Regions from separate parts of the Homo sapiens genome. Here region 1 is linked to region 2. The links come from fine-mapping of genetic effects on gene expression. Tissue or cell type: whole blood. Region 2 holds a variant in brackets; the other region holds the start of a gene. All regions are shown on one strand. Distances are between the middles of the regions.

What was found. PIP is the estimated chance that this variant, and not a neighbour inherited with it, causes the effect.
Region 1: ZNF266 starts here. The variant in region 2 is fine-mapped to the expression of ZNF266 in whole blood (INTERVAL, PIP above 0.99).

The regions. Positions count from the first base shown.
Region 1 is chr19:9,427,351-9,443,596 of GRCh38, reverse strand. ZNF266 (zinc finger protein 266) reads left to right here and starts at 8,024. Exons shown (of 11, transcript NM_001370374.1): 1 at 8,024-8,313; 2 at 8,404-8,489; 3 at 8,738-8,799; 4 at 9,362-9,522; 5 at 9,811-9,929. LOC105372269 (a long non-coding RNA gene) reads right to left here and starts at 7,956. Exons shown (of 3, transcript XR_007067133.1): 1 at 7,825-7,956. RefSeq lists an enhancer at 8,104-8,233.
Region 2 is chr19:9,396,484-9,412,203 of GRCh38, reverse strand. It overlaps LOC112268250 (a long non-coding RNA gene), which reads left to right and starts at 5,144. Exons shown (of 3, transcript XR_002958434.2): 1 at 5,144-5,354. The variant A/G (reference allele first, on the strand shown) is at 4,210.

The DNA of each region.
Region 1 (16,246 bases), 31 kb before region 2:
AATGTGGAATGGCTTCCATGTATTCATGTAGTGGAACTGTGCGTAGGCCTGGATTCACATGCCTCTTTCATATCCTTGTGGTCTCCTTAAGGGACTTTTTTTTTTTTTTTTTTTTTTTTGAGACGGAGTCTTGTTCTGTCTCCCAGGCTGGAGTTCAGTGGCGCAATCTCGGCTCACTGCAAGCTCTGCCTCCCGGGTTCACACCATTCTCCTGCCTCAGCCTTCCGAGTAGCTGGGACTACAGGCACCCACCAACACGCCCGACTAAGTTTTTTTTTGTATTTTTAGTAGAGATGGGGTTTCACCGTCTTAGCCAGGATGGTCTCGATCTCCTGACCTTGTGATCTGCCTGCCTCAGCCTCCCAAAGTGCTGGGATTACAGGCATGAGCCACTGCGCCTGGCCTCCTTAAGGGACTTATATCTCCTTTTTTTTTTTTTTTTTGAGAGTCTCGCCCTGTTGCCCAGGCTGGAGTGCAGTGGCACAGTCTCAGCTCACTGCAGCCTCCACCTCCTGGGTTCACGCGATTCTCCTGCCTCAGCTTCCCAAGTAGCTGGGATTACAGGCGTGTGCCACCACACCCGGCTAATTTTTTGTATTTTTAGTAGAGACGGGGTTTCACCGTGTTAGCCAGGATGGTCTCGATCTCCTGACCTCGTGATCCACCTGCCTTGGCCTCCCAAAGTGATGGGATTACAGGCGTGAGCCACACATGTGGCTGAGACTTTTCTCTTAATGAAGAGAAAACAAGAGAAAAGGATAGGGGTTGAAATACTGAAACATTAATTTTAGGTAAGGGGAGTTGGTCCTCCAAATATATACTAATTTCAGCCAGGTGGGCATGAAAATAAATATCTCAGGCCAGGTATGGTGGCTTATGTCTATAATCCCAGCACATTGGGAGGCTGAGGCAAGCGGATCACTTTGAGTTCAGGAGTTAGAGACCAGCCTGGGCAACATGGTGAAACCCTGTCTCCACTAAAAATACAAAAATTAGCCCTGCATGGTGATGCACGCCTGTAATTCCAGTTACTTGGGAGGCTGAGGCACAGTAATCACTTGAACCCAGGAGGCGGAGGTTGCATTGAGCTGAAATTGTGCCACTCCAGCTTTGGTGATGGAGTAGACTCTGTCTCAAAAAAAAAAAAAAAAAAAGAAAAGAAAAGAAATATCTCAGAGCATTTCACAGAGGTCAACACATTTGAAAAGGTGAGGAAACTTTTAAAGCTGTACTGGTTATAGAGCAAAGTGAAGTACAGAATAGAGTCAGACTGCTAGAGTACACGTCTTGGCTCTGCCTCTTGCTGGCTACGTAATTTTGTAGAAGTTAAATGGCCTCTCTTGCCTCAGTCTGATCTTCCTTTTTTTTTTTTTTGAGACAGAGTCTGGCTCTTTTGCCCAGGCTGGGGTGCAGTGGCTGATCTTGGCTCACTGCAAGCTCCGCCTCCCGGGTTCGCGCCATTCTCCTGCCTCAGCCTCCTGAGTAGCTGGGACTACGGCGCCCGCCACCGTGCCCGGCTAATTTTTTGTATTTTTAGTAGAGACGGGGTTTCACCGTGTTAGCCAGGATGGTCTCGATCTCCTGACCTCGTGATCTGTCTGCCTCGGCCTCCCAAAGTGCTGGGATTACAGGCGTGAGCCACCACGCCTGGCCATCTCAGTCTGATCTTCTGTAAACTGTGGATGAATTTTATAATAAGCTGCCTGATTTGGTACTGTAAGAATCAAATAAGTGAATGCATCTACTCAAATATGATAAGACAAGATTTAGTGGTACTTAGTAAGATTAAATTAGTCCTAGGTAATGATATTTTAAAGAAAACTCATCTGTATGCAAATCTTCTAAATAAAATTTCTAGCAAAACTAATCCAGTTATGAGAAAAAATAGTGCCCTATGAACAGTTTTACTTTAGGATTGCAAGAATGGCTTATTATCAGGAATGTTTTCAACACAACTAATTACTATACTACATTTGAGAGAGAGGAAAGTATTGTGAGGGAAGATGAAAAATTCCATATCCATTTGGAATTTAAAAAGTAAGTGAGCAAGGAAAGGAAAATGAATCCAGAATGGAATGGAGAAGTTTATCTACTGATGTGATTTTTTATGTAGGAAATCCTAAGGAATCCACTAAACTATTAAAACTGATAAACAAGTTCAACAAGGTTACAGGTAACAAGATCAACATAGAAAACTCAGTTGTATTTATGTATACTATCACGGCACAAGCCAAAAATGAAATTAAGAAAACAATTCTGGCTGGGCGTGGTGGCTCATGCCTGTAATCCCAGCACTTTGGGAGGCCTGAGGTCAGGAGCTCGAGACCAGCCTGGCCAACATGGTGAAACCCCGTCTCTACTAAAAATACAAAAAAAAAAATTAGCTGGGTGTGGTGGCGCGTGCCGGTAGTCCCAGCTACTCAGGAGGCTGAGGCAGAAGAATCGCTTGAACCCAGGAGGTGGAGGTTGCAGTGAGCTGAGATGGCACCACTGCACTCCAGCCTGGGCAATAAGAGCGAAACTTCATCTCCAAAAAAAAAAAAAAAAAAGAAAAGAAAAGAAAAGAAAAGAAAACAATTCCATTTATTATAGTATTAAAATAATAAACTACTTGGGAATAAATCTGATAAAAGATGTGCGAGACTTCCATACTGAATACCACAAAATGTTGATAAAGATGAAAAGTAATGGAAAGTCACCCCATGTTGATGGATTAGAATACTTATTATTTTTGAGAGGGAGTCTTACTCTGTTGCCCAAGCTGGAATGCACTGGTGCAATCTCGGCTTACTGTAACCTCTGCCTCTGGGTTCAAGCAGTTCTCCTGCCTCAGTCTCCCGAGTAGCTGGGATTACAGGCATGTGCCACCATGCCCAACTAATTTTTGTATTTTTAGTAGATATGGGGTTTCACCATGTTGGCTAGGCTGGTCTCGAACTCCTGACCTCAAGTGATCTGCCCATCTCGGCTTCTCAAAGTGCTGGGATTGTAGTCATGAACCACCACACCTGACCAAGAATACTGAACATTATTTTTAAGATGGCAGTACTCTCCAAGTTGGTCTATAGATTAAACATAATCCCTATCAAAATTCCAGATGGTGACAGAGTCTTTGCTTTACTCAACTATAGTCAAGCTCCTTAAACTTTTCTTAGGCCCATGTGTACACTTTTGTATATTGAGTTTTAGCAAGAACCCTGCTAAGTCAGTACAATAAGAACCTACCACCCTCAGTATCAGATCACCCTTATAGCTGATCAGGTTCCCGATTCTCTACTATCTACCAATTACAGGCCAAAGTGATCAGACATCATGTTAGGTCAGTTTATCCACCATCCTCCATACCCCTGATATTCCTCTTGGCAATTTTCCACTCACTGACCTTTACTCTTTAACTTGACTATAAATTCCCATTTGCTCATGCTATAATTATTCAGAGTTAGCCTACTCTGTCACCTCCACTGCAAAATCCTACTGCAGTGGTCCCTATACCTAACGTGATGGTACTGAATAAAGTCTGCCTTACTATGCTTTAACAAGTTCCACTGATGTTATTTTTTTTTTTAATTTAGCACTGGCTTCATAGCAGAAATTGACAGGCTCATCATAAACTTTATATAGAAATGGAAAGAACACCAAATAGCCAAACAGTCTTGAAAAAGAGGAACACAGTTGAAGGAGTCACACTTTTGGATTTCATAAAGTGCTACAAAATTGTAGTAATCAAAACAATGTGGCACTGGCTTAAGGATAAACATACAAATTAATGGAATAGAATTGAGAGTCCAGAAGTAAGCCCTCACATATATGGTCAACAGATCTACAAGGCTGCCAGGGTAATTCAATGAAGAATGAAAAGAATGTTTTCAACAAATGGTTCTGGGAGAAATTGATACCATACTGCAAAAGAATGCATTTGGGCTTTTACTTTATACCACATACAAAAGTTAACAGATACCACATTGGGGATTAAGCTAAAAAAATTAAAATATTTAAAAACCCCACAAAAGTTAGCTGACAATGGATCAAAGACCTAAACATACATGTAAGACCTACAATAATTCCCAGAAGTATAGGCAGAAAAGTTTCATGATACTGGATTTAGTACTGTTTTCTTAGGTGCAGTATCAAAAACATTGCAAACAAAAAATTATCAACATTAAACTTGTACTTCAGAGGACACTCATCAATATTATATAGTTTAGTATTCTAAAATATTCCATCAAGAAAGAGAAGGAAAACCTATTGAGAGAAAATATTTGTAAATCATATATATGATAAGGACCTCTCTTCAGAATATATAAAGAACTCTTGCAACTCAATGGAATTTTTTTTTTTAAGATAGAGAGTTTCGCTCTTGTTGCCCAGGCTGGATTGCAATGGCACCATCTCAGCTCACCGCAAGCTCCGCCTCCTGGGTTCAAGCGATTCTCCTGCCTTGGCCTCCTGAATAGTTGAAATTACAGGCATGTGCCACCATGCCTGGCTACTTTTTTGTATTTTTAGTAGAGACAGGGTTTCTCCATGTTGGTCAGGGTGGTCTTGAACTCCCAACCTGAGGTGATCTGCCTGCCTTGGCCTCCCAAAGTGCTGGGATTACAGGCGTGAGCCACTGCACCCGGACCTTTTTTTTTTTTTTTTTCGAAACAGAGTCTCACTTTATCACCCAGGCTGGAGTGCGGTGGCATAATCTTGGCTGACTGCAACCTCTTCCTCCCGGGTTCAAGCGATTCTCCTGCCTCAGCCTCCCGAGTAGCTGGGATTACAGGTGTGTGCTATCACGCCTGGCTGATTTTTTATCTTTTACGATGTTGGCCAGGCTGGTCTTGAACTCCTGGCCTCAAGTGATCTGTCTGTCTCAGCCTCCCAAATTGCTGGGATTACAAGCCACCGTGCCCAGCCAGAAAACAAATTTTAAAAGGGGCAAAGGAATTGAACAGAAATTTCTCCAAAGAAGCATACAAATGGCTAACAAAGCACATTAAATGATGCTGAACATCACTAGTGTTAGGGAAATACAAGTCAAAATCATGAGGTATCACCTCACACCACTAACACAGTTAACATGAAAAACACTAAAGTGTTAGCAGGGACGTAGAGAAGTTGGAGCCCTCATACATTTCTGGTGGGAATGTAAAACAGTACAGCCCCTTTCAAAAACAGTGTGGCAGTTCTTCAAATTCTTAGATAGTTACTGTATGGCTCAGCAATTCCATTCCCAGATATATACTCTAGAGAAATAAAAACCAGCTGAGCGTGGTGGCTTATGCCTTTGTGGAGGCCGAGGCGGGCAGGTTGCTTGAGCTTAGGAGTTTGAGACCAGCCTGGGCAAAACCCTGTCTCTACAAAAAAATACAAAAATTAGCTGGGTGTGGTGGCTTATGCCTGTGGTCCTAGTTGCTCAGGAGGCTGAGGTGGGAGGATCGCTTGAGCCTAGGAGGTAGAGGCTGCAGTGAGCTGTGATTTCTCAAAAAATAAAAGCCAGTATGCACAAAAAGATATATGTGAATTTTCATAGCAGCATTAATCACAACACCCCCAAAGTGGAAACAAACCATATGTCCATCAACTGAAGACAAATCATATATGGTATATACATAGAATGGAATATCATTCAGCAATAAAATAGAATGATCTAGGCTATAATACAGATGAACCTTGAAAAACGGGCTAAGTGAAAAAAGTTATTCACAAAAGATTGTATGATTTTTAGGCCGGGCATGGTGGCTCACGCCTATAATCCCAGCACTTTTGGAGGCCGAGGCAGGACTACTTAAGCCCAGGAGTTCGAGATCAGCCTTGCAACATAGTGAGACCCTGTCTATACAAAAATAAAAATAAATTGTATGAGTATATCCATATGAAATGTCTACAAAAGAAAAATCTGTAGTGATAAAGTAGGTTTGTGGTTCCCTGGAGCTTAAAGAGGAGGTAAATGGGTTTTCCCATTCAAAGATTTCTTTTAGTGTGATTAAAATGTTCCAAAATTATGTTTGAACAACACTGCGAATGTACTAAAAAATATTGAATTATATAGCTTTAAGTGGGTGAACTGTGTTGGTTATATGTGAATTGTATCTCAATACAGCTGGTCTAAAAACCAAAAGGGAAAAATCACAATAATAGCCACATCATTGGGAGCGTAAAAATTTAATGTCTATTAAGCATTTAGGGTAGTAAGATTTAAAAAACAGCTACCGCCAGGTGCGGTGGCTCACACCAGCACTTTCAGAGGCTGAGGTGGGCAGATCACCTGAGGTTAGGAGTTTGAGACCACCCTGGCCAACATGGCGAAACCCCATCTCTACTAAAAAAAAAAAAAAAAAAAAATACAAAAATTAGCTGAGCGTGGTGGCGCGTGCCTATAATCCCAGCTACTCAGGAGACTGAGAAAGGAGAATCCCTAGAACTCAGGAGGTGGAGGTTGCAGTGAGCCGAGATCGTACCACTGTATTCCAGCCTGGGTGACAGAGCAAGACTGTCTCAAAAACAAACAAACAAAAAAGCTACCATTATTATTATTATTACCACGGAATATTATTAGTTGATACAAAACCACTGGAATGAAAAGATTATGATCTTGATATTGGCATAAGTAAATGTATTACTGGCATAGAGTCTAGAATCAGATACAGGTATACATAGGAATTTATAGTTTAATAAACATGGAATTTGAAATCAGTAAATCAAGGACAGTTTATCAATATGTGGTACTACAATAATTGGCCGTGTTTCTGGAGGAAAGAGATATTGTATCCACTATCCCACACCACATACTGAAACACATTCCATGAGTATGAAAGATTTCAATGTTTTTAAAGTAATATGCTGCAGAAGAAAATTAGGAAATCTATATGTAATCTAGAGTTTATGAAGACTTCTTAATGCAAGAGAGGAAACTTAAAAAAGAAAATCTTTTTGAGTTGAAAAATTAACTGCAAAATAGTTACCAGTTCAGTAGATTCACAAAATATTTGATAATGTACATGAACAGTTCTTCATGTTAGTAAAACAGTGTTCAAAATAACTTTATTAACTCCATAAAGGCCACCCACTACAAAGCACAGCAAAAACGATTTCTGGAGAAACTAGAATCACTCCTGCAGAAGTGAATGCCTGATATCAGTGCTATTTTACAACGCGGTATTTTACAACGAGGCCCTGGAACTCACTGTAAGATCTCAGAAAACAATATATTAGTCAAAGAAAAAAAAATCAACATTTACAAAAAGTATCAGCATATTGAATACACAAAGGAATCAACTATTAGAATTTAGCATGGCGTCCAGATAAATGAAATAAGGGGAAATATTGGCCTCAAGTTGAATTGGGCCCGGCGCCGTGGTGCACGCCTGTAATCCCAGCCTTTTGGGAGGCTGAGGCGGGATGATTGTTGGAGCCCAGGAGTTTGAGATCAGCCTGGGTAACATACCTCAACTCTGGGGGAAAAAAAATTAGCCGGGCATGGTGGCCTGCGCCTGTAGACCCAGCTACTCGGGAGGCTGAGGCGGGATGATGGCGTGAGCCCATGAGTTTCGCCCCACAGCACGCCAGCCTGGACTACACAGTGAGACCCTGTCTCAAACAAAAACAAAATAAAAAACTAAAACTAGATTGAATGAATGGAGGAGATAGGCCATATCATGGACTGGCAGGATTATCAAAGGAAGCATCATTTTGAGGGTGCTAGGAACGTGGGAGGAGGTGAGAATAAAAGCTTTTTGTGAGCATTGTGCACATCCTGTGGGGGAGCCCCCACCTCTAACTTTGCCAACACCACCGACCCCACCCTAGGTTAGCCCCGTCCGCAGGGCTGGTTCTAACCTCAGCCTTGTGCTCTGGGCCCCTTTTGGCCTCCATCCCTCAAGGTGAGCAGACTCCAAGGCCTCCAAGGCGTCTCCGTAGCCACTGGGGAGTAAACCAGAATCTCTCTGCCTGAGGTTGTTCAGCTCGGCTGAGGTTGCAGTTCCCGAGCGCTCCTCCAGGTTTGAGGCTGGAGGCGGAAGTGACGTCACGGAGCGCTGCTGTGTTTTCCGGCGCTTTCTCCGCGCCGCCAAACCCGTTTTCTTCCTGGTGGCGTTTGGGCTTAATACAGCTTTGGCGAGGTCGGATGACGGGTGGGAGCCAGCGGTGGAAGGGGTGGCGAAAGTACCGGTTTGCCCCAGGCCGCCGAGGGGCCTCCTTAGAGAGACCTTGCCTGCTCCGCTCGCGTCCGCCGGGGCCGCGCGGGTCCTCCTGGCGCCGCCAGGTTCAAAAAGCCACTCGAGTTGTCACTGCGACGGCCCTGGGCCAGGAGCCGTTTCGGGATCTGTCGTAAGGGCGCTTCCTCACGATTTTTGCAAACACGGTGATTGCCGCTTCAAACTCTTCCAAAGCAATTCTTTGTGACTTTTTTTTTTCCAGAAACAACGAGTTTTCGTCGTTCGAATCAGGTTGACTGGTCCTTCATCCCCCCAATCTCCCGTACCTGGCGAGTCCAGCTCGTCGCGGTGAGTACTGGGGTGAAAGTTGGTTTCGGGGGCTTCTTCCTCCTGTTTTATCTGAGAATTTGTTTTTCTCTTTGCGCATCCTGTATTTACTTTTGACACTCTACATTCAGGTAGAAACATAAAGCTATTTTTTAGGTATCTGGGGTGTGGTTATTTCTCTATGTGAATATAAACGTTTGTAGACCAGAAGTCTTTCTACTGAAGAAAAGCAAGAATACTCAGCTATTCTTTTTATCTGAACTTCCTAGGCCTGTACCTCCCCACAGAGCTTCAAAACGGGCTTTTAGGAAGAAGGAATGGAGGCTTTGAAGTAAGTTGAACATTGCAGGCGTGACACTTAAGGTTTAAATGCTTGGTAATACGTGTCCTGTGGATAAAGACATGTCCTTTTAAAACCATAATACTATTACCCCAGAAAATTTAAAATGTTGTTAATATGTACCCTGTGTAAAAAGGTACAGTTCTCCACTTTGTTCCAATATATGGTTTTGATTGTTTTGGGATCTATTACGTATCCAAGTTTCATGTCTTTTAGTCTCTTTAAAACTAGCAGACACTGTTTATCCGTTATATTGTCTTTTTGCGCAGTCACTCGTTCTTTCAGAAAGTTATACATTTTGGTAGTTCTGATTGTATTCTGTGCCGTGTTTAAATGTATCCTTCATTTATTGGTGTATCCTGTAAATGGATGAGTGTCTGAATGGTTAATTAAGGCATAGTAAAAAAATTCAGCCTAGGGCTGTTCTTAGGGAGGTTGTAAACTAGTGGAGGAGGCTGTCATGTAACCAAGCAAATAAGTGTATTACAAATTGATGAAGGTCTGTAAGTAAAGTAGAGGACAGAATTATTTTCTCTATTTTTCTTTGGAATAGGCAATGCTAAGAAAAGAGTGATATGCAAGCTGAGACCAAAAATATGGTATGATTTAGCCATACTGAAGGGGAAGGAAATAAGAGCTGGGCAAAGCATTCTGTGAATTGGCTGACTCCACTTCTATGGTGAGAGAGAGGAGTGCATCAAAGATTACTCCCAGGTTTGACAGAGTCAGTATTCTTTCTTTGGTTGGGGAAACAATGTGGTGGGATAATTTAATCTTAAATGTATGACAGGAAATAGTAAGTGATATCTTTTGGGAGACAGAGTTTCGCTGTTGCCAGGCTCCAGTGCAGTGGCAGGATCTCGGCTCACTGAAACACTGTAACCTCCACCTCTTGGGTTTTCAAGCCATCCTCCTGCCTCAGCCACCCTAGTAGCTGGGATTACAAGTGTGCGCCACCATGCCTGGCTAATTTTTGTATTTTTGTATTTTTTTTTTTTTTAGTAGAGATGGTTTCAGCATGTTGGCCAGTCTGGTCTCAGACTCCTGACCTCAAGTGATCCACCCACCTCGGCCTCCCAAAATGCTGGGATTACAGGTATAAGCCACTGTGCCTGGCCAAAGTAAGTGATATCTGACAAATGATGTAAATCAAGGGAAAATAGGAGAAGCATGAATGTGTTTTAATTACATGAATAAGAAATTAATTCAAGGGATTAATGAGAATCAGTGCTTGATCACTGAAAAATAAGCTCTCCATGAAAATTCACTGATGTTAATTATTAGTCTTAGGAAATATGTATATTCATAAACAGACAAAACTTCTCTCGTTGTTTTTTTCAATTCACTTTTGGGTTCCTTCTCCTACCTAAATTAGTCCTTCGTTTCCCTGAAGGAATGTCCAGAGTAAGCACTCTGCGTGACTCCTTATAGACACTCATACACCTAGGGGGTTGGCTTGATACAATCCATGTAAGTAAATGACCAGAAAACTCACCTGCCAATGTGGGCTGCCAAAAAGCTGTGAAGGGGCCACATGGCCTGGAAATACAACAGATCTTAGAATAATGTCTGTTAATTATAACATCGATGACGGAAAAAAAATCAAATTCCAGTAGGGCCACTCTGTAGATTCTGCACGTTCTTCCCATGTCTGCATGGGTTTTCTCTGGGTACTCTGGTTTCTTCCCACATGCCAAAGATGCACATGTTAGCTTAATTGGTGTGTCTAAATTGTCCCACTATGTGTGTGTGTGCCCTGAGCTGTTAGGATGGGCTCTGGCCATTTTCATTCTGGAACTGGAATAGGTGGATTGGAGAATGAATGAATGAATACAAACTATTGTAAAATAAAAATTCCTAAAACATTTGATAATGATACAACTGTACAACAGTAAATGGTACCACTTAGCAAGCTGGCCCCATTTGTTATTGTTTTTGAGCTTCTTGGTGGTAGGAGGTGGTCCTTAGAGTTTTTGCTTTGGAAGCATTTATTTGTTTTAACCCACCACTGTTAACTGCCATCACATACCAATTCATCAAAAATTGGATAAATAGCCTATTTTTATTAGTCTTTCTTAAATGTATATATATTTCACATTTATTTCAATATTTAATATTAGAAGTGTTTGGGGTCTTTATTTAGAAGTTTAGTGATGTTTTTGTGACCAGAAATATGCTGTAGGAGCTTAACTCGCTTATATTAATTAGCATGTGAAAAAATTCGCTTTGTTGTATGTCATTTCGCTTAAAGTCTCAGTTTCCAAGAACCTGCTGATGACTTTAAGTGAAGACTTAAATTCTATACATTTTCTCTGTTTGGCACTTAGGGGTTCCAGTGAACTAGCCGCATGTAGTGAAATCATTGATGGGGATTCTGATATAAAGTTGCTGAGGATGTGCATATACTGCTTTTTGGAGAGTGTATTGGCAAACCAATTTCAAAAACTGTTGGCAGTACATACTAGGTTTATACACATACATGCCCTACAGCAACAGTAATGTATACACTATGTGTATCAAGATAAAAGTAAGCCAGGTGCAGTGGCTCACGCCTGTAATCCCAACACTTTGGGAGGCCAAGGTGGGTGGATCACTTCAGGTCAGGAGTTGAAGGCCAGCCTGGCCAACATGGTGAAACCCTGACTCTATTAAAAAAAATACAAAAATTAGCCGGGCATGGTGGTGGGTGCCTGTAATCCCAGCCACTTGAGAGACTGAGGCAGGAGAATCACTTGAACCAGGGAGGTGAAGGCTGCAGTGAGCTGAGATTGCGCTACTGCACTCCATCCTGGGCAACCAGAGTGAGACCCTGTCTAAAAACAAAACAAAACAAAACCCAACTGACTTGAGACCTCAATTACATCTGCATTCTCTTCATTTTTGCTTATTCTTCTGTTAGAAACTGGTCAAAGGTCGTGCGTGCGCTCAACAGGAGGGTGTTATCCAGGGGTATGAATGCCAGCAGGTGGGGATCTCTGGGGTCATATTACAGTATTTGGCCACAGTGTGGCTGTAGCCCACTGGATGGTGAAGTTTGCTGGGTTACTCAGGCGGGAGTTAGTCATAGTCCTTAGGGAAGATTGAAGCAGTGTTTCAAGGCAAAGGCCAGCTGCAATGGGTGGATCAGCCTGTAGGGGGAGTCAGGACACCACTGTAGCTATGAGGCTTGGACTGGTTCGTGTCTGCCCTGGAAGTGCTGTGACAAACACACCTCTGGGGCACACTCACACTGATGGTGATGGGCAGCTATGCACAGGAAATTTGGATGCCACTTTGTTTGCAAGGCCTGGGACTTCAGTGTTCACGTTCGGAGGCCTTTGGGAACAAACCTTTGGGGTACAGGTCATGCAGCAGCATGCATCCTGGCATGCGCATTGTCTGTGTCATGAGGGACACAAGCCATCAAGCCAGTCGGCACATGTGCAGAGGGTGCCTCTGCTAGTGGGAGTCCTTTGAGCATGTGGCGTCCATATTAGGAGGGCCACAGGGTGGTGGTGACTGGGCCAGGGTTTTGTGGTATCCTAAGGACTGTGTTATGGGCATATGGCGTGGACAGAGCACCCTCCAATGCCCTCACACCCACACTGCTGACCACCGTGTCGCAATTGTATCCAGCAGGCAACGCTCCCTTTTGCAGTGTCCATCCCATGTCCCCTTTTAGTATGTTCCTCTAATTAGGTCCTGAGGCTTCTGTCTCTGGAGAGTGGCTGTAAATTCTAGCTCTGTCCCGACCAAGAGGAGAGGTGTTCTGGTGTGTTGGGTGGGTTAGGTACAGAAAAGGCAACACAACAAAACACATCAAGTAGCAGAAGCATTTTATTCCTTACAGATCCGCGAGAAGAGGGTTGCCCTTGAGGTCCTGACAGCAACTCAGGAGACAGCCGGGTGCTAACCAGTGGGTGGGGAATGAGACAGAGAGGACCTGTGGGACTGTGCCTTTGTTACGGTCCATGGGCCTTATCCCTCAGGCTTTCCCAGCGTGGTTGTGGATTAGGTAGACCTGAGCAGTGGGGAGAACTGATTTACATGACTGATGTTGGCCAGTAGGTTTCATTATGGTCAGCAGCTGTGGGGTGTGTTGGGTTTGGGGTCAGTGAGGTGAGGAACAAGTAGGCTATGTCACAAACAGCACACAGGGAGGGGAAAGTTTTAAGTAAGCCAAAGGTGATGGGGTCTGACTGGGTTCCAAATAACTTATGTCAGGCCTAAAAATAGATGTAGGGCAGTTATGTTGGAGGGTATGAGCTGATGATTTAGTAAAGCATATGTAAAGGTTAGTGGTATTGTGTGTAACCAAGGGGCAAGAGTGGTGTGGTTGGATAGGCAAGGCTGGAGGTCAAGATAGAAAGTGAGAAGGGTAGTAGTGTTGCGGGACGATCAACGATGGGAGAGACTGAACAGAGTGAGTTCAGGAAAGGTCTTTAAAAGGTGATCACCTGGCTCAGGAGGACTGGCATCCAGGAAAGTCTGAGCCCTGGACAAAGAAAGCAGCCACCTTTAAAGCACTCTGGCCGGGAGCTACTGATACAGGAAGCGTACTTACAGAAGCGAGAACGAAGGCAGTTGATCAGTCTTTTACATTTATCTATACTACATGTTCCACATCCCTGGGAAACCATGTTTCTGTATTAACCTTGTAACTTTGCAGCTGCGCTAGGGAGGTGAAGCAGGAACTCACTGAGCCTCAAGGAGTGTGAAACTAGCAAGTACAGATAAGGCTGGCTGAGCACAGAAGGAAAAACAGGCAGTTAGTATTCTCTCTTAGGCTACTGGGTGGGGGGGTGGGGTAGGAGGAGGGGCTACGCTACACTTAGCTTTTGCAGGAAAAAGTAAAAATTTTTGCTCGTCTTTGATTGTACTTGTAAAATTCATGAATTCCTTCTTCATTAGAAGGCATCATGGAGTAGGTGGTCCCCTCCCTGGGGTTAAGGAGTTTACCGACATGAGGCAGGTGCCTCTTGGGGAAAACAGTAATCTCCATTAATTTTAGTAACTCCTACCAGATTTTCCTTCAGGCTTGGGTATGTGGGTGTGCACATTTGAGCAGAATGCAAGTACGCTACCAGGATCAGGGGCTAAGCAGACAGTTCAGAAAGAAAAAAATGTTCTGTGTCCATTTGTGTTTTAGGAGAGGCAGTCCACGGATGTCACTGTGTGGAGGTTTTAGTGTAATGGTGGAGTCATCTCCACCATCAGAGTCTTGGGTCAGGGCTGTGTTGCTGGAGGCAATGTTGTTTCCAGCGGTGATATTTTGGGCTAGGACAAGGTCGTCTAGGATGTCACTGGGGTATAAAGTGGATACCCATTGAAGTAGATGTGGCCCTCTAGGTTGTAAACCAACAAAGCATCTAGTAAGACGAACCGTTAACAGAATGATATGTAGCTGTACCTGACAACATGTTTTTGTTTCTGTCTTTTGGTGGAAGTTTAGGTTCAGGTGGGTCCCCTATCAGATGAGCAGCTGCCGGGCCTCTGGGACAATCTAATGTTAGTAAGTCCCAGGCGACTGTGCACCCTCGATTTGGCCTTCAGTGTTTGTGGGATGGGGGCAAGATTGAAAATAAGTTAAGCCCTAGAGCATGATAGAGAATTTCAGGAGTTTGTTTTTTGGACTGGAATTTGAAAAGTAGTTATTTGAGGACATTTTTCTGTCTTTCAGTGAAACCAGTTATCTGAGACCTATTAGGGAAATGAAAGTTCTATTGAATATATTTTTCGAGGCGCTAGCATTATGTATTTTAAGAAATGAAACATGGGTTGGGCACAGTGGCTCGCCCCTGTAATCCCAGGAGTTTGGGAGGCCGAAGTGGGAGGATTGCTTGAGCCCAGGAGTTTGAGACCAGCCTGGGCAACATAGCGAGACCCTGCCTCTTAAAAAAAAAATTAAATTGACAAAAAAGAAGTGAAATATATATGTAGGTTACTAATAATGTCTGTAACTCTGAAGGGAATAAGTAGTGTCCTGGCAAGGCCTCGTATTGTGCCTTTAGTGTTTGGAGAGGTATGGGATTTTGCTTTATATTTTGGGTATCTGTCAGACAAGAGATTCCCAGGGTTTTTTTTTTTTTTTTTCCCACCCTGGAAGGGACAGTTTTTAGGTAATGACCCAATAGTTTATTGTAACCATGAAGAAGGTGGGTCGGTTTGTTGACCTGGGCATCCAGCGCTAAGACAGCTGCCTGAAGTTTGGCCAGGCACGTTGTTTCTTGGGTCCTGTCCTTTATTAGGGACATCCTGGCTAAGGGATGGAAGGCAGCAGCATTCCACTGAGCCCCATCACTTATAATGGTCAGCAGTGGCCTTTGCACAGTCTATGAACTCCCATTAGTGTTCACTTAGTTAATCCCAGGGGCTTTCCAGGTAGTCAGGGGACCTGTGGGAGGGAGGAGTGACCACCTTCAGCACGCTGGCATCAGGCAAGGGACTGAGAACAGGGGAAGCCACTGCCTTCTGCGGGTGGATTAGACCCAAGGGCCTGAGATTGGCTTCATCGTGGCCTAAGGAGGCCTCAGTGGCCAGGCAGAGCTTATGGGGGGTTGTTTCCCTGACCTAGAGCACAGTGGGCAGCTGCATAGGAGGATCACAGGCTCAGGTCTGTGAGATCCTCTGTTTCCAGGAGAGCCCAGTAGATGGCCAGTCACTTGTTTTACTGGTGAATAACAGGAAGTCAGGAGGGGCAGTCTCTCCTAGACGGCCTGGGGCAGCTAATGACCATCGTAAGTGGTCTAGAGACTCCAGCAGGCATTTAAAAAGTTGCCAGTCTCTAGCATGAAGGGAGTCCTTTTAGGAAGTTGATTTTTCCCCCCGTTTTCTTTTTTTTTTCTTCGAGGCATTAATAGGAGTGCTTGTTGATTTTAATTTAAATTATAATTTGTAAATCAGGCATATGTTGCCACCAGAACCCAAAAATTACTAAAAGATACTGGAATTACTTCCCCTTAATGACATGTCAAGAGTTTCCTTGGGGAAGGCTGTTATCGGTGCGGTGCATACCTGTGTTCCTGGAGAAGGTGGATGTTGTTAAGATCTCGTTTGCAAAGATCGTATGTGATGACAGATCTGTTGGGTAGCCTGGAAAAGGTGTGTTGTGTCCCATTGGAGGGAGAGGCAAGCTGCAGCTGAGAGGCTGTTGAAATAGGCACTGAACAGGGCATGTTGTCCAGGCCGGGTGTGGTGGCTCACACCTGTAATCCCAGCACTTTGGGAGGCCGAGGTGGGCAGATCACTTGAGGTCAGGAGTTCAAGACCAGCCTGGCTAACATGCTGAAACCCTGTCTCTACTTAAAATATATATATATATATTAGCTGGGCATGGTGACGCACACCTGTAATCCCAGCTACTCGGGAGGCTGAGGCAATAGAATCCCTTGAACCCTGGGTGGCGGAGGTTGCAGTGAACCGAGATTGTGCCACTGCATTCTAGCCTGGGTGACAGAGC
Region 2 (15,720 bases):
TAGTGACTTAGAGTGGACTGAGGCTCCATTATTAGTAATGTGGAGAGATTTCATTAAATGTTTATACCTTACATGAGAAATAAAAATTCACAGTGTAGAGAACACTTCTGCTGTAAGGCACGTGGGAAAGCTTTTACTAATTCCACGAGGCTCATTTTACATATCTAAAATTAGACTGCAAGTGAGCCAAGACCCCTACACTCCATCCTGGGTGACAAAGCAAGACTCTGTCTCAAAAAAAATAAAATAAAATTAGACTGCAAATGTCCTGGGAATGTAGGGGAATGTATGGCAACCTTTAAATATCTCACATGCCATAATGTTAACATGAAATCTCACATTGGAGGAAGAACCTGTGTATCCCAGGGATATGGTGTCACCTTATTTCATTGCTCAAGCCTTAATATCTTTGTGAGAATTCACACTGGGGTAAAACCCTGTGATTATAAAAAGGATGCAGGAAGTACTTCATTTGCTTCTCATATCTTACTGTATCACAGTTCATAGCCATGTGAATGTAAGAAATATGGGAAAGCTGTCAGAATCTCTTCACAACCCAGCAGGAAGTAACTTGCAATGAGACCACACAGTCTGTGAAACATGGAAAGCCCTTTGCTGTTATCTCAGGGATTGCTTAAGTAAGGTTTTGCAGTAGAGAGAAATCCTATTAGTGTAAGAGGTTTTGGAGAGTGGTAGTTCAGCTAAATAATGTTGACTTCTCAGATTGGAAAACTCTGACCAATTGAAAATGTTTTATTACTCTTTTAAAATATCCGTGTTCACCTGGTGCAGTGGCTCAGAGCTGTAATCTCAGCACTTTGAGAGGCTGAGGTGAGTGGATTGCTTGAGCTCAGGAGTTCAAGACCAGCCTGGGTAACCTGGTGAAACCCCGCCTCTACAAAAAAGACAAAACTTAGCTGGGCATGGTGGCTTATGCCTATAGTCCCTGCTACCCAGGAGGCTGAGGCAGGAGAATCATTTTAGCCCAGAAGGAGGTTGCAGTGAGCTGAGATTGTGCCACTGCACTCTAGCCTGGGTGACAGAGTCAGACGCTGTCTCAAAACAAAAAATCCATGTTTCAGAGCAGTTTTAGGTTCACAGCAAAATAGTGTGGAAGGTTCAAAGACATCCTATATTCCTGCGGCCACTACATATGCATAGCTTCCACCATCATCAACATACTCCACCAGAGTAATACATTTGTTAGAATTCATGAACCTGCATTGCCACTTCATTATCACCCAAAGTCCACAGATCATCGGTCCTCCCACTATTCCTCCCTCCCTCTCCCCAGCCCGACAACCACTCATCTTTTTACTGTCTCCATAGTTTCGCCTTTTTCAGAATGTCATAGAGTTGGAATTGTGCAGTACGTAACTTTTCAGATTGGCCCAAAGTGATAACTTCACATCCTTCTTTTCCAGTTCAAATGTTGCCTTTTTCAAAACCACTCATGGCCTGCCCCGCCCTCATCCTGTGCCCATAAAAACCGCAGGCTCCACTAACAGAGTAGAAGAGGGTGGGGGCTTTAGTTCTGTCTCTAGAGCAAAGCCCACAGTTATTGGTTAATGAATGCGTTAAGGCACCCACACCTTCCACCAATGTTGAGCTGTGTTCACCCCATGGTGACTTTTGGGGCAGTGGATTGCAGGGTGGGTCTGGAGTGCCATGTGACTGCTCTGCAGGACTTGGAGACTGGTGAAATTTCTGCACAGGTGGCTTCTGGAGCTCCTGGACAAGGCGCACCTTTCCTCAAGAGCGTGACTCCTTGATGCTTGGAATCTGGGTGAGGACAGGATGAGGACATTTAAAAATACTGTTTAGTGTTAGGTTTTTAACTCATTGTTTAATTCTCTGACACAGCAGCTGAGCTTTTTTTTTTTTTTTTTTTTTTTTTTTTCTTGAGATGGAATTTTGCTCTTGTTGCCCAGGCTGGAGTGCAGTGGAGAGATCTTGGCTCACTGCAACCTCTGCCTCCCGTGTTCAAGTGATTCTCCTGCCTCAGACGCCTCAGTAGCTGGGATTACAGGCACGTGCCACCACGCCCAGCTAATTTTTGTATTTTTAGTAGAGATGGGGTTTTGCCATGTTGGCCAGACTGGTCTTGAACTCCTGACCTCAGATGATCTGCCCCTCTTGGCCTCCCAAAGTGCTGGGATTACAAGCATGAGCCACTGCACCCGGCACTGAGCAATTTTTTAAACCAATATATTCTTTGGTGCAGCATCTAATTTAATACTTATTTTAAAACCTAATCCTTTAAAAATCTTTTATTTGCCAGTTGATAGAGAATGTCTGTTTTAAACACACGTTTCTAATGTATAAATCTAATGTTAGCAATACAATTCCAAACCCTTTACTTATCAGTGGGTATTTTATTTAGCAGAGACTGTATAAAATGCACTGCTAGCCAAACTGCTTTTGAATTTCTTTTGCCCCAGATCTCTGGTTTTTGGAGGCTTCATTAAATAAAACTAATAATCCTCTATTCACTTTTTAAGAATTGTGGTAAAGTATATTACATAAAGTTTACATTTTAACCATTTTAAGTGTCCACTTCGCTGGCATTAAGTATACTCACATTGTTGGGCAACTGTCACCATCATCCCACTAAAAAATGTTTATCTTCCCAAACTGAACCCAGTAAACACTAACTCCCTACTGCTCCCTTCCCAATCTCTGGCAAACACCATTCAATTCTCTGTTGGAAACAAGTGCTCGACATAGCCAAAAGAAACCCCCTAGAAAATTTCTCCGCAGGGCACCTTTACTTCTGCAGAAGGGTGCTGCTTGTGCCCGTTACGATCGCAAGAGCACGATGAACAAAGAAGGGAAGGAGTTTTTAATTTAATGCAGTTCCTGTTTCTGTGTCGTCCCCCAATTGGCTGGGATTGGACTGCACAATCTAAGCTGATCCCGATTGGCTAAGACTTAAACTTTTCCAAATAGGGTAAATGTGCGATTTGTGGAAACAGAAGAGAAGAAAGGGGGTAGGATTGATGTACAACTTTTATAACTTATGATCAGAAAGTTGAGTCTTTGAAGAGGAACTTAGTTGTTCCAACATGTGTCTGTGTTAACCCCACTACTGTAGGTACCTCATAAAAGTGAAGTCCCAGTATTTGACTTTTTGTGACTAGTTTATTTCATTTAGCGTAACATGTTCAAGGTTCATGTTCATGTTCATGATCAAGGAACATGTTCAAGGAACATGTTCATGTTCATGTTCAAATTCTGCACATCTCAGAATTTCCTTTTTTAAGGCTGGATAATCTATTGTATGGCTATACCACAGTTTGATTTGCTTTCACCTTTTCAATATTGTGAATAAAGCTGCCATGAACATGGGTGTACAAATAGCTCTTCCAGTACCTGCTTTCAACTTTTTGATTAATATACCCAGAAGTGGAATTGCTGGATCATACGTTGGTATCATTTTTTAGTATTAATGTTTATTTTCCAACTCGGTCTTGAGGTTTCTCTCTTGAGAAAGGCCAAAAGCCAATATAGCCACACTCTTTTTTTTAATTTTTTTATTTTAAGAGTCTTGCTCTGTCATCCAGGCTGGAGTGCAGTGGCACAATCTCAGCTCACTGCAACCTCTGCCTCCTGGGTTCAAGTGATTCTCATGCCTCAGCCTCCCGAGCAGCTGGGATTACAGGCATCTCCCACCATGCCCAGCTAATTTTTATATTTTTTGTAGAGACGGGGTTTCACCATGTTGGCCACACTGGTCTTGAACTCCTGACCTCAGGTGATCCACTCACCTTGGCCTCCCAGAGTGCTGGGATTACAGGCCTGAGCCAACATGTCCGGCCCGAGATAGCCACTCTCTAGGAGAGCTGGTGGAGGATGTTAAGTTCAAGTGTGTCAAGTGAGACACAATGAGAAAGTGAAACCAAAATCAATGAAAGGAAAAAGTTTATTATAGATTCCAGAGAAGTTAGGGGTGCTGAATAATGGCCCACAGGAAGTCCAGAGACAGTATGGTGCTCAACCTGTGGGTAGGTTACTGGAGAGATGAAGAGACAGAGAGGGCCTGTGGGACTGTGCCTTTTAAGGACCATGGGTTTGTCCTTCAGTCTTTCTTCACGTGACTGTCGATTGGCTAGGGAAAAAAATGAAGGGGGGAATTTATTTACATGACTGTGGTGTTGGTCATTAGCTTTTATAGGAGTCAGCAGCTGTGAGATGAGGAACACGTGGGTT[A/G]TATCAGGAAACAACCGCACAGGGAGAGGAAGTTTGTCAGACCTAAAAGCGTAGCAGCTTTATATTAAACAAATTATGACCTATGGCAATTCTACATTTATTCCCTATCACTTTTTTATGTTTTTAGGAGACAGGGGTCTGCCCAGGCTGGTCTCTAACTCCTGGGCTCAAGCAATCCTCCCATCTGGGTCTCCCAAAGTGCTGGGATTGCAGACGTGAATAAAACACCCGCCCCAAATCACTTTTAAATCCTACCACGTCTTGGCAGGTGTTTTATTCACACGGATATTTAGAAAATGCCAAAAAGGGTTTGTGTGTGTGTATGTGTGTGATATAAAGGTTCTGGTTTGGTTGTCAAAAATATAGGAAGAACTACAGTACACAGGGCTTTAAATTCCAAAGTTTTTCTTTGCTTGTAGACTGATATTTATCATAGTCCCTGGAGGAGGGTGTAAGGCCTCCAGCGACCCAGGATCCAGTTTCAGAGACTTCTTCATTAGGTTAGTGAATGTGGCCAAGTTACACCGCCCGTCCATGCCTCTGTTTTCCATCCATAAAGAGGGCAACATAAAAACGCTCTTGAAGGAGAAGAAGGGGAACCCCTCCCACGGCTCCAGGAGACCCCTGTGCAGATTTCACCTGGGGTCTGCATGGCCTGAAGGGTGGCTCTCCCACAGGCAATCCCGCCTCCAGGGCATCGCCCCGCCCCATTGTCTCCGTCTTGGTATCGCCCCGCCCCTTCTGCCTTTCCCGGGGGACGCTGGGATCTCTCTACTAGCTTTGGAAAGTCGCGGCTGTAGCGCCCTTCTAACGTCACCACGCGGCTCTCGTGGCTCCTGTTTCTCAGCCCATTCCAGGTCACCTCCCCCCCCTCCCCCGTTGCCCTCATGCCTGGAAACGGAAGTGCGCTCCCGGAAACGGAAGTGAATGCCGTACTCCGCGTGCAGGCCCGCCTCCTTCCACATCAACCAGTCTAAGGTTGCTCCCACCAGACTAGGAGGACTGGAGAGTAGGGTTGGGGTCAAAGGGTAGCCTCCTGCAGGTCGCCTCCTCCTGTGGCTTTCCCGGACGTCGCGCTGGGACTTCCTGCCGACACCGCACTTCTTCCCAGACTCCCACCTGCGCCGCTGGGGGCTTGGGTCCAGGTAAAAGGCGGGTCGGGAGTGCGGGCAGCGAGCTTCGGTGGGGCCTTTTCGTCCGCGGTCTCCCCTTTCCCAAGCCTCTTCATCAGCCTTTGCAGACTTTCTGCAGAAGGAAGAAAATCTCTTGCTGGAGTCGTGGTTGTTTTGTCCCCAGCAGCTTCACCGACCAGGGGATTCCAGCCAGTTTGGGTGAACACTGGGTGAATTTGTTCTTTTGGGGGATGTTCTTTATATTTGGTAAATTATGTACAGGTGGAGAAATTAGAAACTCATTGTTAGGGAGTACGGGCATCTGACACAATTAAATGCATGGGTGAATGAATGCATGTAAATGCAAATTTTACTGTCACGGAAAATCAGCTCGGTATTCAGCTCAGAACCCTGTAAATCTCTAAGCTTCAAAATACAAGCATCTCCAGAGAAAAAAAGAGAACATGCAGGCTTGTTTTTGTATCACAAATGGGAATTGAGTTGACCATAAACAGCAAGAGCCTTTTCCAAGTGGATTTTCCTTACCTTGTTAATTTGGAAATTTTCAAACTGAAGAAAATGTCAAAGTCTGGTACAACAAACCACCATTGCCCTAGATTCACTAAGTAATTAATCTCTTGTCATTTCCTTTTTTTGAGACAGTCTCACTCTATTGCCCAGGCTGGAGTGCAACAGCACGATCTCCGCTCATTGCAACCTCCACCTCCCAGGTTCAAGTGATTCTCTTGCCACAGCCTCCCAAGTAGCTGGGATGACAGGCGCAGACCACCACACCCAGCTAATTTTTGTATTTTTAGTAGAGACGGGGTTTCACCATGTTGGCCAGGCTTAACTCCTGACCTCGTGATCTGCCCTCCTGGGCCTCCCAAAGTGCTGGGATTACAAGCACGAGCCACCGCGCCTTGCACATACGAAGGTTTATAAGCTAAAAGTAAGTTGACGGTGAGGTAGGAGGCGGGACTAGACTCTGGAGTCTAGTGGGCTTGGACACCCCACCAAATTGAAGACTAGCTAAAACAGGTCTGTGCCACATGAATATTTTTTTTTGGTGTCTCCACTATTGAGTAGGTTCTCAGGTGGTCAGGGCCTCTGAGGTCTCCCTTTGGGCAATGCTGCTTACCCCCTTCCTTTCCTCCCTTCCACAGTTACCATTTGTTTAGCTCCTCTCTGCCCAGCCCTCTGGAATTTAGGTTCAACATCCAACTGTCCATTTTTAGCTCCTAATCCACTTTTATAACACCCTGCTATTTATATTTACACCTTTCTGGAAGGTGGGAATTTAAAAGGGAAAATTAACTAGACATTTGCTAAACTTAGGCTGAAACCCCCTGTAGCGATCCTTAGTCGACCTGGGGACAACAGCAAGCATCCCAGAGGACTTGGCACTGGAGTGTCTTTTACGCTATTGGAGCAAGTTCAAATTCGTCTTAAGAAGAGACTCATTTTTTGTTGCAGCACTGTTTGGGTTCAATACAGATTAGAAAACTAACAGATTTGGCCTACATATGGTTCTATACATTATAATGATATTTACAATTAGACTTATTTTGTAAAAAGGAAAATGGGAAGACGTCCCTTATGTACAGGCTTTTATGGCTCTTTACAGGCTCATGTTAATTCCAGGGACCAGAATGCCATGCCTAAGGGATCCCCTCCTAGCTGCTCCCTTTAGAAGGCTTACGTTTTCCCCAGGGTCTCTTCAGTCCCCCAATTCTGAGGGGCTTCCTACCAGTTTTTCAATGAAGGAACCCACCCCAAGGTCATCACTCACGCCTCCCCCTTATGCAAACTAGCCCCTATCCCTCCCACTTCCCAAGAGAGTAAGCCCAACCAGTATCACCAGGAGTGGGGCCCCATATCGGCCCCTAAAGTGAAACCTGTGTGCATTGTGGGTGGTAGCTAGTGGAAGTAAGGGAACATGTGCCATTTTCTGTGTCTAATTTGGCTTTATGCAAGGAAAAAATTGGACAGTTTTTAGAGAATCAAGAAAAGTTTATAGAGAAGTTTGTTAAGTTAACCATGTTGTTTCATTTAACTTGTTATGACTCACAAATATTGTCATCCGCTTGTTGTGTTGTGGGGAAAAGAAGTGGAGAAAAAAGGTGTGGTATATACCTATATAAATCCTATTAATCCTATTTCTCTGGAAAACCCTCACTAATACAGGATTGGTTTTTGTTGTTGTTGTTGTTTGTTTGGTTTTTTTTTTTTAAAGAGATGGGGTTTTGCCATGTTGCTCAGGCTGGTCTCGAACTCCTGGACTCAAGTGACCCACCCACCTTGGCTTCTCAAAGTGCTGGGAGTACAGACATGAACCACCATGCTCGACCTTGTTGAAACTTTTTGCATCTGTATTTGTGAGCCATGGTGTTGGCCTGTAGTTCTCTGTTGTTTTAATGTCTTTCGTTTTGGTATTAGGGTGATGCTGGCCTCACAGAATGTTAGAAAGTATTCCCTCTGCTTTTTCTGGAAGAGATTGTAGAAAACTGGCATACTTTCTTACTTTCTTCCTTAAATGTTTGGTAGAATTCACTAGTGAACACATCTGGACTTGGTGCTTTTTGTTTTGGAATGTTATTATTCTTTTTCTTTATAGATACAGATCTATTTAGATTGTCTGTTTCTTCTTGTGTGAGTTTTGGCAGTGATATGGTTTGGCTGTGTCCCCACCCAAATCTCATCTTGAATTCCCACATGTTGTGGGAGGCACCCGGTGGGAGGTAATTGAATCATGGGGCAAGTCTTCCCCATCCTGTTATTGTGATAGTCAATAAGTCTCACTAGTTTTGACTGTCTTAAAAACGGGAATTTTTCTGCACAAGCTCTCTCTTTGCCTGCCAACATCCACGTAAGATGTGACTTGCTCCTCCCTGGCTTCCACCATGATTGTGAGGCCGCCCCAGCCACGTGGAACTGTGAGTCCAATTAAACCTTTTTCTTTTGTGAATTGCCCACTTTCGGGTATGTCTTTATAAGCAGCATGAAAACAGACTAATACAGGCATATTGTTTCTTTCACATCACTGATGTATTTCATCTAGGCTTTCAAATTTGTGGATGTAGAATTGTTCATGAAATTGCTTTATTATCCATTTCGTATTTGTTATTTTTATTTTTTATTATACTTTAAGTTTTAGGGTAGATGTGCACAACGTGCATGTTAGTTACATATGTATACATGTGCCATGTTGGTATGCTGCACCCATTAACTCGTCATTTAACATTAGGTATATCTCCTAATGCTATTCCTCCCCCTCACCCCACCCCACAACAGGCCCCGGTGTGTGATGTTCCCCTTCCTGTGTCCATGTGTTATCACTGTTCAATTCCCACCTATGAGTGAGAACATGTGGTGTTTGGTTTTTTGTCCTTGGGATAGTTTGCTGAGAATGATGGTTTCCAGCTTCATCCATGTCCCAACAAAGGACATGAACTCATCATTTTTTATGGCTGCATAGTATTCCATGGTATATATGTGCCATATTTTCTTAATCCAGTCTATCATTGATGGACGTTTGGGTTGGTTCCAAGTCTTTGCTATTGTGAATAGTGCTGCAATAAACGTACATGTGCATGTGTCTTTATAGCAGCATGATTTATAATCCTCTGGGTATATACCCAGTAATGGGATTGCTGGGTCAAATGGTATTTCTTGTTCTAGATCCCTGAGGAATCACCACACTGACTTCCACAATGGTTGAACTAGTTTACAGTTCCACCAACAGTGTAAAAGCGTTCCTATTTCTCCACATCCTCTCCAGCACCTGTTGTTTCCTGACTTTTTAATGATTGCCATTCTAACTGGTGTGAGATGGTATCTCACTGTGGTTTTGATTTGCATTTCTCTGATGGCCAATGATGATGAGCATTTTTTCATGTGTCTTTTGGCTGCATAAATGTCTTCTTTTGAGAAGTGTCTATTCATGTCCTTCGCTCACTTTTTGATGGGGTGGTTTTTTTCTTGTAAATTTGTTTGAGTTCATTGTAGATTCTGGATATTAGCCCTTTGTCAGATGAGTAGGTTGCAAACATTTTCTCCCATTCTGTAGGTTGCCTGTTCACTCTGATGGTAGTTTCTTTGGCTGTGCAGAAGCTCTTTAGTTTAATTAGATCCCATTTGTCAATTTTGGCTTTTGTTGCCATTGCTTTTGGTGTTTTAGACATGAAGTCCTTGCCCATGCCTATGTCCTGAATGGTAATGCCTAGGTTTTCTTCTAGGGTTTTTATGGTTTTAGGTCTAAGATTTAAGTCTTTAAGAGATCCAGTTTCAGCTTTCTACATATGGCTAGCCAGTTTTCCCAGCACCATTTATTAAATAGGGAATCCTTTCCCCATTGCTTGTTTTTGTCAGGTTTGTCAAAGATCAAATGGTTGTAGATATGTGGCATAATTTCTGAGGGCTCTGTTCTGTTCCATTGGTCTATATCTGTGTTTTGGTACCAGTACCATGCTGTTTTGGTTACTGTAGCCTTGTAGTATAGTTTGAAGTCAGGTAGCATGATGCCTCCAGCTTTGTTCTTTTGGCTTAGGATTGACTTGGCAATGTGGGCTCTTTTTTGGTTCCATATGAACTTTAAAGTAGTTTTTTCCAATTCTGTGAAGAAAGTCATTGGTAGCTTGATGGGGATGGCATTGAGTCTATAAATTACCTTGGGCAGTATGGCCATTTTCCCGATATTGATTCTTCCTACCCATGAGCATGGAATGTTCTTCCATTTGGTTGTATCCTCTTTTATTTCATTGAGCAGTGGTTTGTAGTTCTCCTTGAAGAGGTCCTTCATGTCCCTTGTAAGTTGGATTCTTAGGTATTTTATTGTCTTTGAAGCAATTGTTAATGGGAGTTCACTCATGATTTGGCTCTCTGTTTGTCTGTTATTGGTGTATAAGAATGCTTGTGATTTTTGCACATGATTTTGTATCCTGAGACTTTGCTGAAGTTGCCTATCAGCTTAAGGAGATTTTGGGCTGAGACGATGGGGTTTTCTAGATAAACAATCATGTCATCTGCAAACAGGGACAATTTGACTTCCTCTTTTACTAACTGAATACCCTTTATTTCCTTCTCCTGCCTGATTGCCCTGGCCAGAACTTCCAACACTATATTGAATAGGAGTGGTGAGAGAGGGCATCCCTGTTTTGTGCCAGTTTTCAAAGGGAATGCTTCCAGTTTTTGCCCATTCAGTATGATATTGGCTGTGGGTTTGTCATAGATAGCTCTTATTATTTTGAGATACTCTCATCAATACCTAATTTATTGAGAGTTTTTAGCATGAAGGGTTGTTGAATTTTGTCAAAGGCCTTTTCTGCATCTATTGAGATAATCATATGGTTTTTGTCGTTGGTTCTGTTTATATGCTGGATTACGTTTATTGATTTGCGTATGTTGAACCAGCCTTGCATCCCAGGGATGAAGCCCACTTGATCATGGTGGATAAGCTTTTTGATGTGCTGCTGGATTCGGTTTGCCAGTATTTTATTGAGGATTTTTGCATTGATGTTCATCAGGGATATTGGTCCAAAATTCTCTTTTTTTTATTGTGTCTCTGCCAGGCTTTGGTATCAGGATGATGCTGGCCTTATAAAATGAGTTAGGGAGGATTCCCTCTTTTTCTATTGATTGGAATAGTTTCAGAAGGAATGGTACCAGCTCCTCCTTGTACCTCTGGTAGAATTCGGCTGTGAATCCATCTGGTCCTGGACTTTTTTGGTTGGTAAGCTATTAGTTATTGCCTCAATTTCAGAGCGTGTTATTGGTCTATTCAGGGATTCAACTTCTTCCTGGTTTAGTCTTGGGAGGGTGTATGTGTCAAGGAATTTATCCATTTCTTCTAGGTTTTCTAGTTTATTTGCGTAGAGGTGTTTATTCTCTGATGGTTGTTTGTATTTCTGTGGTATCAGTGGTGATATCCCCTTTATCATTTTTTATTGCATCTATTTGATTCTTCTCTCTTTTCTTCTTTATTAGTCTTGCTAGTGGTCTATCAATTTTGTTGATCTTTTCAAAAAACCAGCTCCTGTATTCATTGATTTTTTGAAGGGTTTTTTGTGTCTCTATTTCCTTCAGTTCTGCTCTGATCTTAGTTATTTCTTGCCTTCTGCTAGCTTTTGAATGTGTTTGCTCTTGCTTTTCTATTTGTTTTAATTGTGATGTTAGGGTGTCAATTTTAGATCTTTCCTGCTTTCTCTTGTGGTCATTTAGTGCTATAAATTTCCCTCTATACACTGCTTTGAATGTGTCCCAGATTCTGGTATGTTGTGTCTTTGTTCTCATTGGTTTCAAAAAACATTTTTATTTCTGCCTTCATTTCGTTATGTACCCAGTAGTCATTCAGGAGCAGGTTGTTCAGTTTCCATGTAGTTGAGCGGTTTTGAGTGAGTTTCTTAATCGTGAGTTCTAGTTTGATTGCACTGTGGTCTGAGAGACAGTTTGTTATAATTTCTGTTCTTTTACATTTGCTGAGGAGTGCCTTACTTCCAACTATGTGGTCAATTTTGGAATAAGTGTGGTGTGGTGCTGAGAAGAATGTATATTCTGTTGATTTGGGGTGAAGAGTTCTGTAGATGTCTATTAGGTCCACTTGGTACAGAGCTGAGTTCAACTCCTGGATATCCTTGTTAACTTTCTGTCTTGTTGATCTGTCTAATGTTGACAGTGGGGTGTTAAAGTCTCCCATTATTATTGTGTGGGAGTCTAAGTCTCTTTCTAGGTGTCCAAGGACTTGCTTTATGAATCTGGGTGCTCCTGTATTGGGTGCATATATATTTAGGATAGTTAGCTCTTCTTGTTGAATTGATCCCTTTACCATTATGTAATGGCCTTCTTTGTCTCTTTTGATCTTTGTTGGTTTAAAGTCTGTTTTATCAGAGACTAGGATTGCAACCCCTGCCTTTTTTTGTTTTCCATTTGCTTGGCAGATCTTCCTCCATCCCTTTATTTTGAGTCTATGTGTGACTCTGCACGTGAGATGGGTTTCCTGAATACAGCACACTGATGGGTCTTGACTCTTTATCCAATTTGCCAGTCTGTGTCTTTTAATTGGAGCATTTAGCCCATTTACATTTAAGGTTAATATTGTTATGTGTGAATTTGATCCTGTCATTATGTTAGTTGGTTATTTTGCTCATTAGTTGATGCAGTTTCTTCCTAGTCTTGATGGTCTTTACAATTTGGCATGTTTTTGCAGTGGCTGGTACCGGTTGTTCCTTTCCATGTTTAGTCCTTCCTTCAGGAGCTCTTGTAGGGCAGGCCAGGTGGTGACAAAATCTCTCAGCATTTGCTTGTCTGTATTTTATTTCTCCTTCACTTATGAAGCTTAGTTTGGCTGGATATGAAATTCTGGTTGAAAATTCTTTTCTTTAAGAGTGTTGAATATTGGCCCCCACTGTCTTCTGGCTTGTAGAGTTTCTGCTGAGAGATCAGCTGTTAGTCTGATGGGCTTCCCTTTGTGGGTAGCCCGACCTTTCTCTCTGGGTGCCCTTAACATTTTTTCCTTCATTTCAACTTTGGTGAATCTGACAATTATGTGTCTTGGAGTTGCTCTTCTTGAGGAGTATCTTTGTGGCTTTCTCTGTATTTCCTGAATTTGAATGTTGGCCTGCCTTGCTAGATTGGGGAAGTTCTCCTGGATAATATCCTGCAGAGTGTTTTCCAACTTGGTTCCATTCTCCCTGTCACTTTCAGGTACACCAATCAGATGTAGATTTGGTCTTTTCATATAGTCCTATATTTCTTGGAGGCTTTGTTTCTTTTCATTCTTTTTTCTCTAAACTTCTCTTCTTGTTTCATTTCATTCATTTGATCTTCCATCACTGATACCCTTTCTTCCAGTTGATCGAATCGGCTACTGAGGCTTGTGCATTTGTCATGTAGTTGTTGTGCCTTGGTTTTCAGCTCCATCAGGTCCTTTAAGGACTTCTCTGCATTGGCTATTCTAGTTAGCCATTCTAATTTTTTTTCACGGTTTTTAACTTCTTTGCCATGGGTTCAAACTTCCTCCTTTAGCTTGGAGTAGTTTGATCATCTGAAGCCTTCTTCTGTCAACTCGTCAAAGTCATTTTCCGTCCAGCTTTGTTCCATTGCTGATGCGGAGCTGCGTTCCTTTGGAGGAGCAGAGGCGCTCTGATTTTTAGAGTTTCCAGTTTTTCTGCTCTGTTTTTTCCCCATCTTTGTGGTTTTATCTACCTTTGGTCTTTGATGATGGTGATGTACTGATAGGGTTTTGGTGTGGATGTCCTGTTTGTTAGTTTTCCTTCTAACAGTCAGGACCCTCAGCTGCAGGTCTGTTGGAGTTTGCTGGAGGTCCACTCCAAACCTGTTTGCCTGGGTATCAGCAGCAAAGGCTGCAGAACAGTGGATATTGGTGAACAGCAAATGTTCCTCTGGAAGTTTTGTCTCAGAGGAGTACCCAGCCATGTGAGGTGTCAGTCTCCCCCTACTGGGGGATGCCTCCCAGTTAGGCTACTCAGGGGTCAGGGACCCACTTGAGGAGGCAGTCTGTTCATTCTCAGATCTCCAGCTGCATGCTGAGAGAACCACTGCTCTCTTCAAAGCTGCAGACAGGGACATTTAAGTCTGCAGAGGATTCTGCTGCCTTTTGTTTGGCTGTGCCCTGCCCGCAGAGGTGGAGTCTACAGAGGCAGGCATGCATCCTTGAGCTGCGGTGGGCTCCACCCAGTTCAAGCTTTCCAGCCACTTTGTTTACCTGCTCAAGCCTCAGCAATGGCGGGCGCCCCTCCCCCAGCCTCACTGCCACTTTGCCGTTTGATCTCAGACTGTTGTGCTAGCAATGAGCAAGGCTCTATGGGCGTAGGACCCTCCGAGCCAGGCGTGGGATGTAATCTCCTGGTGTGCCGTTTGCTAAGACCATTTGAAAAGTGCAGTATTAGGGTGGGAGTGACCCGATTTTCCAGGTGCTGTCTCTCACCCCTTTCTTTGACTAGGAAAGGGAATTCCCTGACCCCTTGCGCTTCCCAGGTGAGGTGATGCCTCGCCCTGCTTCAGCTCACGCTCGGTGCGCTGCACCCACTTTCTGACACTCCCCAGTGAGATGAACCCGGTACCTAAGTTGGAAATGCAGAAATCACCCGTCTTCTGCATCACTCATGCTGGGAGCTGTAGACTGGAGCTGTTCCTATTTGGACATCTTGGCTCCGCCCCCCATTTCATATTTATGAGATCTGTAGTGATGTCCCTTCTTAATTTCTGCTATTAGTAATTTGTGTCTTCTCTGTTGTTTCTTTGTTAGCCTGATGAGAGGTTTATTTTATTCATCCTTTCAAAGAACCAGCTTTTGGTATTGTTGATTTTACTCTATTTTCTGTTTTCAATTTCACTGACTTTTGCTTGAGGTTTTTTGTTTGAGACAGTGTCTTGCTTTGTTGTCCAGGCAGGAGTGCAGTGGCATGATCATGGCTCACTGCAGCCTCAAACTCCTGGACTCAAGGGATGCTTCCACCTCAGTCACCCAAATAGAGGGGAGTACAGGCATGTGCCACCATGCCTGGCTTTTAAAATTTTTGTAGAAATGGAGTCTAGCTGTGTTGCCCAGGCTGGTCTCAAAACTCCTGGCCCTCAAGTGATCCTCCCACACTGGCCTCCAAAAGTGCTGAGATTACAGGCATAAGCCACCATGTCTGGCCTTGAATTTTTATTATTTCTTTTCTTCTGCTTACTTTGGATTTAATTTGCTTTTTTTTTTTTTTTTTAGTTTCCTAAGGTGGAAGCTTAGATGATTGGCACAGATCTTTTTTCTTTTCTAACCATTCAGTGTTATAAATTTCCCCCGAAGAACTGCTTTTGTTGCACCCCACAAATCTTGTTAAGTTGTATCTGTTGTCAGTGCAAATTTTTTAAACTTTTTTTGAGATTTCTTGTTTGACCTATTTATTTAGAAGTGTGCTGTTTGATCTTCAAGTATTTTGAGATTTTTTTAGCTGTCTTTGATTAGTTTCCAGTTTAATTCTGTTGTGATCTGAGAGCATACATTGTATGATTTCAGTTCTTTCATATTTGTTAAGAGGTGTTTCATGACCCGCAGTGTGGCCTGTCTTGATGAATATTCTATGTGAGCTTGAGAAGAATGTATAATCTGCTGGTTTTGGATGAAGTAATCTATATATGTTAATTATATCCAGTTGATTGATAATGCTGTTGAGTTTTACTACATTCTTACTGATTTTCTCCCTGCTGGATCTGTCCATTTGTGATAGAGGGGTATTTATTTTTAATTAATTTATTTTTTCATTTTTTTTTTTTTTTTTGAGATGGAGTCTTGCACTGTCACCTGGGCTGGAGTGCCATGGCGTGATCTCAGTTCACTGCACCCTTTGCCTCCTGGGTTCAAGCGATTCTCCTGCCTCGGCCTCCCAAGTAGCTGGGA